2 linked regions of the Homo sapiens genome follow. The protein of the gene in region 1 interacts with the protein of each later gene in a pairwise test. Each region holds a gene or a part of one and is shown on either strand. Other genes may lie near its edges.

Region 1 (7,228 bases):
AGGACCACCAACTACATTATGTCTATGATTCTTCAAATATAAAATGGAATCCTAGAGAAATAATGTATTCCACCAAAAGAGAAGAATCTCTTAATTACTTTCCTCACTGTTTTTGCTTTTTGTCTGCTGTTTTCTATTTGCTACACTGAGGACTCATTTTGCCTGGCTTTTTGTCTCGTCCACCTTCTAACACCTTGGCCCATCCTCCCCCTGGATCCATCTGTGTTCCTGTTCATACTAGACAACAGCCCTATGTCCTCTCTGAAGAGGAGACCCCCAAGGACAAACACTGGCTCCCTGAGCATCAGAACTGGAGGGATCCTCTCAGAGGAGCAGGAGTCTGGGCCCAGCCCCACAAGACCCTTATAATTTGTCCAAAGACAAAGAGAAGCAGTGACAGAACCAGGACCAGAAGCCTGTCCTTATAAACCCTGATCATGAGTTCTCTGCACCACCACACAACTGTGTCTTTCCATGCCAGGACCTGCACATCAGTTCACCTTTCCTGGTCTCCAATCTCTGCCTGGAACAAGGACACTGTCCCAGAACTCAGATGAAATCTGGGAAGCATCCTCATTTCCTCATTCTCCCCCCCACAATCCAACTGGTCCGAGTCCTGTCCATTCAACCTTGTATCTCTCAGTATTTATTCTACTCATCCCCACAATGTCCTAATTTAGGCACTTTTCTCTTTCACATGGGCTTCCGCTACCACTCCTTAAAGGTCCCCCCTGTCTCTAGCTTCGTCCTCTCATTTATTCCCCACAATGGAGGCGGAGGCGGCCAGGAAGATCTAACAGGCAGATCTTATCGCGCCACTCCCTTGACAAAAACCATCAATGGTTCTCTGTAACTTCTTCCCTCACAAGAGATAGAGTCAAGAAGGGCCTTCTAAACTGGCTCAGGGGCTTGGATTTTCTCCAAGTTATAAAAAGGGAACTGATGTCTGACTAAATGTCTCTTCTGTACGAGAAACCTTATCTATGTTACTTAATTGTCTCATCGGTTTTGCAAAATTAACATATGGCCCCTTTGCAGACACTGTTCCCTCTAGTCCTCTCATCTATAACCGAGCACCTGAAATAACCTTAAAAAGCCTCTCCTGGCTCGCCAATCTTCCAACATATCCACATGCTCCCCTGTGCCACCACCTCTTGTATAGATTTCCATTACAATGTGTTTATTTAGCTATTTCCCAAATATGCCTGATAAAAGGGATCACTCACATCATTCCTCTCTGTACCCTCAGACCCCAACAAAAAAATCTGTTTCATAGTAGGTGCTCAATAAATGGTTGATGACTGGGTTATTAACTAAAAGGAGGGTCCATCATGATACAGAAATGCCTAAGCATTAAATCAATAAATACATCTCCCCCAAAGGCCCATAGAGCAGTACCAGGGACTTTTATTAATAGCATTCCTTCAGCAGCTCCACATTTCCCAAAGTGATGTGAGGTAAAGGAAGTGCTCAGACCAGGTGTCTAGTTTAAAGAGAGGAAGTCCTCTAGTGATCACCTAGGCTGACCCAAGTCTCAGTATTTCTTTCTTCAATGTTCCCTCTGCTTTGTACATACATACCCCCACAGCTGTGTTATCTTGTACATACTAGTACAGGAGAGAGCAAGGACTTTCCATTTTCCTACCCCATCACCTAGCACAATAGCTGATACATGGGTAACTACCAATCAATGTGTTAAGTGATAATATCAGCTACATTTAGTGCTATGTACAGGTATGTCCTAAGGATTTAATATGCATTATATCTCATTTACTCCTTATGACACTATCACCAGGGAGGTACTGTTCAACTTTACTCCCATTAAATAGACAAGAAAACTGAGGCCCAGAGGACAGAACAAGATCAAACAAGCATTGACTGAGGGCTTCGCACATTTTATATTTTCACGTACTTTATTTCATTTATTCCTCTGTACAATCCAGCAACTAAGCTGTGTATTATAGTCCCATTTTTAGACAAGAATTCTAAGGCCTGGAGAAACTGCACAGTAACACGCAGCTTGCAAGGCCAGGAACCAAATCCACAACTGTCGACTCCTGGGCACCTTCTCTTTTTGCCTGGCTATCTTGCCCCTCAGTGGCATCAGGACTGGACTGGTCTCTCCAGGCCCGTGCTCTTCCACACTGCACAGAGCGCTGCCCCCAGGGCAGATGGTGCAGCCTGGGCTCTAACGCCGAGGAGAAAGGAGTGCCAGTCCCACTCCATGCCTAGAGACTGCCATCCCCGCAACTGCCCAATTCCCGCGTCCGTAACACGGGTCTCTCCCGCTAAAACACACGCTTTATGACTCTGGGGGCCGCGTGGGTCTTGCAGCCAGGGCCTGGCGCAGCCCTCGCACATGACAGGGGAGGCCTAACCGTGTGTTGGGTCAACATCACCGGCACGCCGCGGCAAGGGCTCCCGGGATCGCGGCTTCGCACCCGGACTGGCTGCGGTGGGGGAGCGGGGCGCCCGCCCCAGGCCCCGCGGGGACCCACGAGCACGAGGCGGTGCCTGGGAGTCGGGAGGCCTGGGTGGCGCTCAGGCAGCCCGCGCAGGCCTCGCCCTCCGCGTCTCCAGCGAGGCGGGGGCGGCGCCTGGGTCCAGGCCGGGGCCGCCGCGGGAGTCCCGGCCGCCCTCCCCTGCCCGGGGCAGCCCCCCGGCCGGACCCGTTACCGGTTCCGCTGCTCTTTGAAGAGCGCCGTGAGCGCGCGCAGGGCCTCCAGGTCTTGGATGGGCGCCGGCACCATGACGCCCGACAGCCTGGCAGGCGGCGGCCTGGGCGCCGCCATCTTGCCGCTCACAGCTGGGTCGAGCCTGACGAGGAGGAGGAAGGCGAGGAGGACGAAGGGGGAGGATGACGAGGAGGGAGGAGTAGGATGGCGAGGAGGAAGGGGGAGGCCTCGCCCTACACAGCCCTAACCGCCGCCGCCGCTGCAGCCCGCGCTGCCCTGAAGCTGCGCCGCCGCCGGAGAGCTCTAGGCTGAGCCCAGACTCGCCTCAGGCGGGAGGAGGAGACGGCGCCGCGGGGGAGGGGGCGCCGGCGGAAGTCCCGCCTGAGGGGAGGGGGCGCGGCGGAAGTTCTGGGTGAGAGCGGGGAGGGATGCTGGGGGTGATTGACTGGGAAGCGTCGCAGACGGGGCTCCTCCGAGGGGAGGGGACGCCGGGGGGAGGGGGACCTGTGTTGATGTGGCCGTAACAGGGTCTCGGTCTTGGGAGCGGGTATCGGGAACCAGAGGTTCACCCTGAGAAAGAGGGGCGCGTCCTATAGGAGGGTGCCCGCGGACAGAGGGGTCTCCCCCAGGGGAGGGGATCCGGGGGGTAAGGGGCCTGTGGAGGGTGGGGCCGTAACAAGGTCTCGGTCTTGGGAGCGGGTATCGGGGACAGAGGTTCACCTTGAGGAAGAGGGGCCCTCCTGTGGGAGGGGGCCCGCAGACAGAGTGGTCTCCCCCAGGGGAGGACATTCTGGGTGGAGGGGACCCTCTTGGGAGGAGACGCTGACTGAGGGTCTCGGGAACGAAGGGGGCCGGGCAGAGGCTCCCACTGCTAAGGCTGAAGACCTTGATCCCACTGCTCAAGTGGGTTGATCAGTGCCCCCGCCCGGGTCCACTGGAAGCTGGAGCGGTCTGTCACTAGCTTGCAAGTCTCAGGCCCTGAAAACGCACTTCCCAGTACTTACTGATCATTGCTGATCAATACCAGACCACTTACCAGGCACTTTGCCTCTAGTGAGTATACATTGCTCCAGCTCCTCAAAGCCTTAAAATACCGTTCGAAGTCAAGAAGCTAAGTTACACAGCAATAGGGTTAGAATTGTTTTTTTTCCTAAGGGAAATGAATATATTTCACAGGAATCAGACAAGGCTTCTCTAGCTGGTGTTGATAACTCACATATTTTCTTTCCACTGCCCTTTATTACAGTGTATATACTTTCAACAAAAATTGTTGCTAAGCCCTGCGCTAGGTGCTGGAGATGTAAAGATTAATAAAAGACAGTTCCAAACCTGAAGGAACCTCACAGACTATTGAGAAGGAGAGAAGCAAACATAACTGAGTATAGTTGTGAACTGCTATAACTGTACAAATTGCTGTGGGACCACTTAAAATATATAAATACATACCCTTTACATTCTGCTTGGAGGGTAGGAGTGTGCTTATAACATGGCGCTTTTAACATTCTTTGCTAAATAAAATGTAAAGATAACAATAAACACCACCAGAGTATGCAGAAAAAGTGAATCCTGGTGGGGCATGGTGGCTCATGCCTGTAATCCCAGCACTTTGGGTGGCCAAGGCAGGAGGATTACTTGAGCCCAGGAGGTCGAGGCTGCAGTGAGCTGTGATCACACCACTGCACTCCAGCCTGGGTGGCAGAATGATACCCTGTATCAAAAAAAAAAAAAAAAAAAAAAAAAAAGGAGGGAGGGAAATGAATGCTGCTGCACAAGCAAGTTACTTGATATTGTCATTCAGTTTACCCATTTAATTGAGTATGTATTTATTCATTCCACGAATATTGCGGTGTACTATGTGCCAGGTATTAGATCACTTATTAGTAGCAGTGCTCAAGACAATGCAAAATGTTTAACACTCCTTAAGCTAACAGGGCAAAAATCTCTTAATTTTCCCTTGAGGAGCACAGGATAGTAAAATGTACTTGTTATGCACCAAAATCCTGATCTTTAGGCCAGACACGGTGGCTCATGCCTGTAATCCCAGCACTTTGGGAGGCCGAGGCGGGCAGATCACTTGAGGTCAGGAGTTCAAGATCAGTCTGGCCAACATGGCAAAACCCCCTTTCTACTAAAAATTAGCCAGGCATGGTGGCGGGTGCCTGTAGTCCCAGCCATTTGGGAGGCTGAGACAAGGGAATTGCTTGAACCTGGAAGGCACACGTTGCACTGAGCTGAGATCATACCACTGCATTCCAGCCTGGGCAACAGAGGGAGACTCTGTCTCAAACAAACAAACAAAAAAACCTGGCCTTTAGTTTTCTTATTCTCAAATGTAACATTCCCAGAAAAACATTCCCTATAATATTCATACTTCTTGCCTGGAATATTGTAATATATTCCTGATTGGTCTTTTGGCCTCTGCTCTTGCTTCCTTACGTTTTAGATCGTTTAAAAAATATTTCAACATTTAACTCTGCCCAAAACCCTCTAAGGGATTTCCATTTCACTCAGAGTAAAAGCCAAGTTCTTCCAATAGAAAAGCCCCTAAATGACCTGCCTCCTCCTTCGCCATCACCTCCAGCCCCTGTGGGCTCTAATCACATCTACTAGCCTCTTCCTCTTCCATTGTGCTTCAGCCATACTGACCTCCTTATTGTCCTCTGTCTATTTAAAAGGAATAAGCTGAGGTAAAATCAATATAAAGAGTTTATTTGGGCCAACGTGAGCATTGCAGTCCAGGACACACATCCAAGTTGCCTTGGGGAGTGCTCTGGAGAACGAAAGAGAAGCTCAACTTTTTAAAGAAAAAAGGACGAATCAGGAGAGAGGGTGATTTAAAAGGTTGTTTGTCATGAATTCTCATTGGTTTAAGAAATAATGTTGGTTAATGATTGGCTGTACAATGTTGAACTATAGATTGTATGCCATTGTGTAGCTAGTTGACATCAGTTCGTCTAGAGGCCAAATAGAATGTGGCTTCAAGAGGTAATTAGGCCAGGCATGGTGGCTCATGCCTGTAGTCTCAGTGCTTTGGGTGGCTGAGGCAGGAGGATTGCTTGAGCCCAGGAGTCTGAGACCAGCCTGCACAACATAGTGTGAGACCCCCCATCTCTACGAAAAAATTTTTAAAAAATTAGGCATGGTGGTACATGGCAATAGTCCCAGCTACTCCAGAGGCTGAAATGGGAGGATTCATTGAGCCTAGGAGTTGAAGGCCTCAGTGAGCTATTACCACACCACTGCAGTCCAGCCTGGGTAATAGAGAGAGACCCTGTCTTTAAAAAATAGTAATAATTCCTTTTGAAAAGAGGTAAGTATTCAGCTCAAGGAGGAGAGACATGATTGGTGTTTCATTCCAATGCTTCTCTAGGCCCGATCATTTAAAGGAGATCATATTCCTCAGATAAAGTTTTGTTTTTCCTTTTTTTTTTTTAAATCCCATAACTCCACCAGGAAAAGAACTCTCCTGCCTTAGGAGTTTGTATATGCTGGTGTTTTTGTTTTTGTTTTTGTATAGAACAACTCCTCACAAACATCTCCATGACTTGCTTCCTTATTTCCTTCAACTACCTGTTCAAATGATCTTTTAACAACCTTCCTGATCAATCTATTTAAAATTGTAACAGGCTACCCAAATTCCTGATCCCCAGGAATTTTCCGCATAGCACTTAATACTTGATATATAACTTACTTTTCTATTTTGTTTATTGTTGCTTATCTATTTCACTTACTACTAGAATGTAAGCTCTACAAGGGTAGAGATTTTTGTCTCTTTTGGTTATTTTTGTATCTCCAGCCCAGCACCTAGAAAAAGACCTACTATGTGGTAATTGCTCAATAAAAGTTGAATTAATGAACAAAGAATCTTTTTAACTATATCAGCAGAGGCCGGACGCGGTGGCTCATGCCTGCTTACGGTTGTAATCCCAGCACTTTGGGAGGCGGAGGCAGGCAGATCGCCTGAGGTCAGCAGTTTGAGACCAGCCTGGCCAACATGGTGAAACCCCCATCTCTACTAAAAATACAGAAAAAAATTAGCCAGGCATGGTGGCAGGCACCTGTAATCCCAGCTACTCAGGACGCTGAGGCAGGAGAATCACTTGAGCCTGGGAGGCAGAGGTTGCAGTGAGCTGAGAGCACGCCATTACACTCCAGCCTGGGTGACAGAGCAAGACTCCATCTCTAAATAAATAAATAAATAAATATACATATATATATATATATATATATATATCTGCAGAAAGGAGAAAGGAGATAGCATGCCTCTAGAAGAAGTGCAATAATCCAAAAAGTACAGAAAAGGAGGCTGATGGAAAAAGAAGAAAAATTATAAGGGAAAAGATTAAAACAGAGAGATTAACAGGACAGACAAAAAGTAGAAATACGCATAAGAGAAACGAAAGGAAATTAAACTGGTCAAACAGTGGATGTTATTGACTGCCCAAAATCGACTAGAGGATTTCAACCTTGACTGAATTGACAGAACCAAGTTAATATTTCACTAGGGCTAAATGACATTGTTAATGTTATATAGCTGTTTGACTTAGACAAAC
Region 2 (7,027 bases), on another chromosome or scaffold:
ACCTAAAGTCCCTGCAAAACAAAATAGTTGCCTGTAGCAAGTCAATTCTATAGTGTAATGGTGTTTTCCCATTTAACTCAATTTATAGTATTTCTTCTCAAATAAGTTAATGAACTTCCCAAATATCATCCTCATTACTAGTTAAAAGTAGTCTGAAATTTCTACAGCCTGAACCATAAGAGTGCTTTCTTCATGAAGACATAGTCAGCTTAAGCATGACTTTCCTTTTTTATCATTACTAATAATAAAACCCAGGTATTTTGGAAGAATTTCTTGAAAGTGTCAAAAGGAGTTCTTCCAACAGATTTCTAATGGAAAAACGTGATCTGTTTTTGCAGTTATTTCTGCTCGTTTTTCTAGTCATAAACATCTTGACCTAAGGAGACTTTTTTCACAATACTTAGAATTTTTATGAAATAGAACTCTGGGTAAACCCTAGAGTTTATTCTTAATGAGTAACACCTAACTTTGTGATTCTGTAAGACATCAAACACAATTCAGAATAAGAACTGGCCTTACCTTTTGCATCCATTTTAAATATACTTAATAGGGCATTGTTCACTAGGTTAAATTCTGCAGAGTCATCTGGATAAAGAAAAAGTGGCATAATGAATATAAAACAAATTTAAAATATCATCTGCTTCAGTTTCAAACTTGATTCAACTTAGTTTCTCAAGGTTACATTGACAGGAAACTTATAACTTAAGCCATTCCCTCAAGTACCAAAAAGATACGTGTTCCTTGTAAGTTGAGAACCCGATCTGGCATGCCTGAAAAACTTTTATTAAGATGCTACAATTATGAAACTACAGGAAATTGGGGGAAAAATTATGATATATCAAAATGCCCAAAAGAATCTAGTCATTACACCTTCATAACGGAATTAAAAACAAAACAACACCAGGAATTAGATAACCAGAAATCATTACACTTTAACTACTGAATGAAAGTAGGAAATTTAATCTCTATCAGAGGTAGGACCTCCAGCTCTCCTGCACCCCATTTAAAACCTAAAAACAGAGTCAACATTTCAGAAAGAAGATATATATTTAGAGAAAAAGGTAATAATAAAATCCCTTACCTGTCTGCAAAAGTTGCGTTAGTATATCTGCCACTCGAGGAAGATTTTCTCCAGTGGCAAATTGAGGCAGTTCTTTAATTGCTTGACGTCGAATCTGGGCATGATTTCAAACAAAAATTAACCAAATACTATCACCTTTAAAATAACAAACAGCTTTTTCTTTTCTTTCTTTTTTTTTTTTTTAAAGACAAGGTATTGCTCTGTTGCCCAGGTTGGAGTGCAGTGGTGCAACCATGGCTCAATGTAGCCTTGACCTTCTAGGCTCAAGAGAGCCTCTTGCCTTAGCCTCCCTAGTAGCTAGGACTATAGACGCAAGCCTCCACGCCTGGCTAATTTTAAAGGCGGATTTCCCTATGTTGCCCAGGCTGTTCTCGAACTACTGGGCTCAAGTGATCTTCCCACCTCAGCCTCCCAAAGTGTTGGGATTACAGGCATGAGTCACCATGCCCAGCTGCAAACTCAACTTTTTAAGAAAACTAAAACCACAGAGAAGCCATCATTAGGGGCATACGAGTCACAAAAATATGAAACAGCAGATTTCTAGCAGTTTTAAAAAGAATTTGCTCCAATTGGCCGGGCGTGGTGGCTCACACCTGTAATCCCAGCACTTTGGGAGGCTGAAGCAGGTGGATCACGAGGTCAGGAGTTTGAGACCAGCCTTGCCAATATGGTGAAACCCTGTCCGTACTAAAAATACAAAAATTAGCCAGGCGTGGTGGCACACGCCTATAGTCCCAGCTACTTGGGAGGCTAAGACAGAAGAATCGCTTGAACCAGGGAGGCGGAGGTTGCAGTGAGCCAAGATTGCACCACCGCACTCCAGCCTGGCCAATAGAGTAAGGCTCCTTCTCAAAAAAAAAAAAAAAAAAAAAGAGAGAATTTGCTCCAATTTAATCTTCAAGTTACACAGAATAAAATATAAAAAGGGATGTTAACAATGTCTCGCTGAAGGAGACAGATTTGAGATTATAAACAACTATTTACATGCTAATTATATGCAACTGTTAGGTTTTTACTACCTATGGGCTTATAATATAGTATTCCTAAAAAATGGCTACTGTGGCAATGTTATACCTAGTAACTGTTTACTTTAGAATTTTCAGTATTGACTACTAAATACAACATTTGTGGCTATATTCTGCATGTTTAATTCCAAATACTGATCTTGGCTTATTCGATTTTTACATAAAATATGTACAGCGGGCCAGATGAGGTGGCTCACGCCTGTAATCCCAATGCTTCAGAAGGCCAAGGTGGGAGGATAGCTTGAGGCCAGGAGTTTGAGACCAGCCTGGACAACATGGCAAGACCCTACAAAAAAATTAAAAATCAGCTGGGAACGGTGGTCTGTGCTGCTTGGGAGGCTAAAGTGGAAAAAAATGCATGAACCCAGGAGTTCAAGGCTGCAGTGAGCTATGGATGTGCAACTGCACTCTGGTCTAGGCAACAGAGTGAAACCCTGTTTCTATTAAAAAAGCAAAAAAAGTATAGGGTTTATATCCAGCAAATTCTGCATGAAATGTTGGCAATTCGCTGTTTCATCTGAAAAGACAAGAGCTAACGGCTGAATATTCTTAGGAACCTGTGTCAGCAGCCAGAAATATTACTGGTTAATTCTGTTCCAAAAAACCCCCCAAAAACCAAAAAACAAAAACTATTTCTTTTTAATCTAGTAATCCTATTCACTTATTACACATACCATTTTTCTGCCATGCAAAATATATAAGGGTAGTGAAACTACATTTTATGATATAACACTTAATAATTTAAATATCCAAGTAAGCACAAATTGATTAAAAACAGTCTAATTTCATATGCACAATGAATAACAATCTATGAAACAAGATGTGAGCCACAACCCATTTTTAACAGTGGATAAATGATAAGCGAAACTAAGTATTTTGAGATTCTATGCATTTTTCATAATTTAAAGGTGTTGAAAAAGGCTAATACACTTTATCATATGTAAATTTAAGCCTGGGTGTGATGCCATGCCAGACCATACCATAGTATTTTATTGTGTACTCTGATATATCAGATTGCTACTCCAATTGTATCAGCCACATACAGAAACATCTGAAAGATTGCTATGAAGTGTCATTCATAAACTTACAGATACATCTTCATCCTCACAGAGGTCTAACTGTGCATTGATAGCAGAATCAGCCAATTCTGGAAAATGCTTAAAGAATTTCGGAATAAATTGAGCTGCTAATCGCTTTTCCTTAGTACCACCTTTCACACCATCCAATATCACTTGATAGGCATCTTTATGCTGAAATAAAAAATAAAGCAGGAAAGACACATGATTTTGAAGGATGGGAAGCAAAGTAAAAGACCATAACAAACATGTTAGAGTGTGCTTTAAATTTTTACACAGGCTAAGAAATAAAGCTGATTTTGGGAGGTTTACTGCTCAAACTGACACTTACCTTCCCAATTCCGTTCTCCCTCCATCTTTGTTTCATTTTTGAGTTGGGGGAGATGGATGAGTCTAATTTTAAGTGGAAAAAGCAAATGTGTTTGTTAATATGCCAATACTTCTTCATTCTAGTGATTATTAACTCTGGCCATGTGACTGTATCATGCTTAAAAAATTTGTAATGGGCCAGGCGTGGTGGCTCACGCCTGTAATCCCAGCACCTTGGGAGGCCAAGGTGGGTGGATCACCTGAGGTCAGGAGTTCAAGACTAGCTTGGCCAACATGGTTAAACCCCGTCTCTACTAAAACACAAAAATTAGCCAGGCGTGGTGGTGTGCGCCTGTAATCCCGGCTACTCGGGAGGCTGAGGCAGGAGAATTGCTTGAGTCCGGGAAGCGGAGGTTGCAGTGAGCTGAGATCGTACTACTGCACTCCAGCCTGGATGACAGAGTGAGACTCTGTCTCCAAAAAACAAAACAAAACAAAACAAACAAACAAACAAAACAATTGTAATGATGGCCAGGTGTGGTGGCTCATGCCTGTAATCTCAACACTTTGGGAGGCCGAGGTGGGCAATCACTTGAGCTCAGGAGTTCCAGACCAGCCTGCCCAACATGGTGAAACTCCCTCTCTCTAAAAATACAAAAATTAACTGGGTGTGGTGGCAGACATTTGTAATCCCAGCTCCTCAGGAGGCTGAGGCAGGAGAATCGCTTGAACCCAGGAGGCAGAGGTTGCACTGAGCTGAGATCGCACCACTGCATTCCAGATTGGGTGACAGAATGAGACTCTATCTTAAACAAGTAAATAAATAAATCATCATGAATACCATAGAATTCACAAAGAATTGCACTGTATTTACTTAAACAAAAATTTACCTGTTTCTAATTAGCACCTTGAAGAAGGTGAAGGGAATACATTCCAGAAATTTAGCAATTCCAGCAATGTTAGGAAGTGCAGTTTAATTTTACCTCATAGCAGTATATGAAAGCCATGACAATTCACTCCATATAGCCAGACAATTTTGGATTAAGACGGACTCTAATGTCACATGTTTAAACCTTTTATTGGAACAATACACTCAAAGCTCATGTTTCCTTAAAAAAAAAAATCACAGGTGCTCTCCCTCAAATACTCATAATGGGAGGAATCAATAAGTTCCCAATCCTCCTTAAGTACTTGCCTCCAAACCAGTCCTTTTATGAAATGACACTGATAAAGATGGTAAATAACAGTAACAAATACAGAAAGACTACACATATATATTGTTTGGACATATGAATAAAACTTAGTAACTGGAAAAACAACTTAAAAATTATAATCTTGACCAAACATATACACAGTATAGTATTTATTATGTATAAGGAGTGTTCTAAGTGCTTTAGACACATGAGCTTACTTCATGCCATCAAGCGGGGAATGACCAATAAATATCCAATGAACTACAGAATTACCAAATTTATTTTACAGTGATTCTTTTTTGTTGATAATGCTATGTTAAGTGAAAAAATAAAGCAGGATGCAAAGTTACAGAACAACTCCCAAATAACAGAAATTTCTGTGAATAAGGTTAACTTCTTCATGAAATGCAGATATATGAGTCTTCAGGAGTCATCACTGAAAAGTGTATTATAAACACATCAAGACCCTGTCTCTCCAAAAAATATAAAATTAACCAGGCATGGTGGTGTGTGCTTGCAGTCCCAGCTACTGGAGAGGCTGAGGGAGGAGAATCACTTGAGCCCAGGCGATAAAGGCTGTGGTAAGCCATGGTCGCGCCCAGGAGTTAGAGGCTGTGGTAAGCTGTGGTCGCGCCACTGCACTCCAGCCTGACAGAGCAAGACCCTGTCTCAAAGAAAGAAAGGTATATGACATACTTTTCACCGCAAACATTAAAAAAAGAAATCATGCTGACTTCTCTACCACTTTACATTCCTGTGGTTTGCCTCAGACTTCTAGGCAGGCTTCATAAAATCAAAGTTTGTTCTGACACCCTTACTTTTTGCAGGGTATCACAAATCTAATTTTCTTTAACTCAAACTTACTCATAAAGCCATTTGAAGAAACTCCTTACACTGTCCAAAATTAAATGAAAAAAAAAAAACCCTGCTTAAAACAAAACTTCCTTTTGCCAAGAAAAAAATATTAAATCTGGAATCAAATAAAAAGGAATCATTAACAATATTTATTGAAGGTCTACCAGGGACTGAGTGATTCCTTGTCTATATCACAATAGGTGTTACTACTATTCTTATCTTTTAGATGAGGAAACTAGGGCTCAGAGAAGTGAAATAAATATTTCCACATATTTTTGAGGGATTACGAACTTGGTTGGTCAGTGGTTTTAGCTTAATCATACAAAAAACCCTACTACAAGAGTGGTTATTTCATGAAATAAAAGTCCAAGAAGCCTACACGCCAACCCTGCAAAGCTAGTATACTCAATGATTGAGAGAACAGGAGGAATCAGGGTTTCAGCATTATACAGATCTAATCAGCCCCACTGCCATGGTCCTTTAACAGGTGTCGGATACATTTTTTAACTTTTAAGATTTTGACTACATAATATAAAATTAAGTATCTATATTTAAAGTAAGTAAATTCATAATAATTTGAAACAGAATTTTAAATAATGGTGGGCCACAGCTTGCTCTATTATGGCTAGTCAGGAGCCCTGGGCAGAGTACAGTGGAAAAGGAGATCAGAAAGGTAAAGGAGCACACAAGAGAAGAGTGAGACCTGAAGGAGTAGCAGAGGCAGAGTGGGGGAAAGGCAGGATGAACGCATAGGCAGAACATGGCAGTTACATGAGAAGATGATAGGACTGGAAGATTTGAGGTATTAAATAATTCTGCACTTAGAATTTGTCATCTGCAGTTTGCTTATTAGAATATACATGCTCATATATGTATGTATGTGTGTGTGTATGATAAAGTTCCCTTTATCCATTAGAGATAATCTGTGTAAATGGTTTTTCTTTTCTTTTGTAAATGGTTTCTCTGTTCCTTCTTCCAATACATTTCTTCAACTATGAAAAAGAAATGCTTACTGAAGGGCAAGGTACAGTGCAAGAAGAGAAGCAATAAATAAATAAATAAATAAATACATAAAAGGATTTAACCCTTGAGACGTTATAATTTAAGTACAGAAATAAATAAAATAAAATACAAGTCTGAAGCATTATTAGTAAGTACATCGTACCAAGGGGTTCAAAAAGAGGATTTGATCTGCTTTGGGGAAATTAGCCGATAAAACCTCAGACGGCTTGTAAGTTTACCCTTATATATTTAGAAGGCACTACTCTGAAAGGAGTATTGACAATAATGGGGAGGGAATAGTCTGTAGTGGCAGCAATCAGAACACCTGTAGTGCTCACCTCTCTGGTAAAGGTTGATAATCAAAGTAAAAGTTAGAAGGAAGTCAAGACTGACAAACTTGAATGCAGTCTCAGAAGTATCCAGACAGGTATTTGCCAGGAAACTTAGTACTGATCATAAATCTCTCATAAGTTGACATGAAAATCA

What was found. The genes of interacting proteins can lie anywhere in the genome.
Region 2: the proteins of ATXN10 (region 1) and API5 interact in binary tests that used the Homo sapiens proteins (3 or more experiments, as listed by UniProt).

What each region holds. Positions count from the first base shown.
Region 1 is NC_000022.11:45,667,628-45,674,855, reverse strand, and holds the start of ATXN10 (ataxin-10), read right to left. Parts: upstream 3,023-7,228; 5' UTR 2,793-3,022; coding exon 2,677-2,792; intron 1-2,676. UniProt on the Homo sapiens protein: May play a role in the regulation of cytokinesis. May play a role in signaling by stimulating protein glycosylation. Induces neuritogenesis by activating the Ras-MAP kinase pathway and is necessary for the survival of cerebellar neurons.
Region 2 is NC_000011.10:43,314,969-43,321,995, reverse strand, and holds part of API5 (apoptosis inhibitor 5), read right to left. Parts: intron 3,576-7,027; exon of another isoform or gene 3,514-3,575; intron 3,357-3,513; coding exon 3,195-3,356; intron 1,176-3,194; coding exon 1,082-1,175; intron 586-1,081; coding exon 520-585; intron 12-519; coding exon 1-11. UniProt on the Homo sapiens protein: Antiapoptotic factor that may have a role in protein assembly. Negatively regulates ACIN1. By binding to ACIN1, it suppresses ACIN1 cleavage from CASP3 and ACIN1-mediated DNA fragmentation. Also known to efficiently suppress E2F1-induced apoptosis.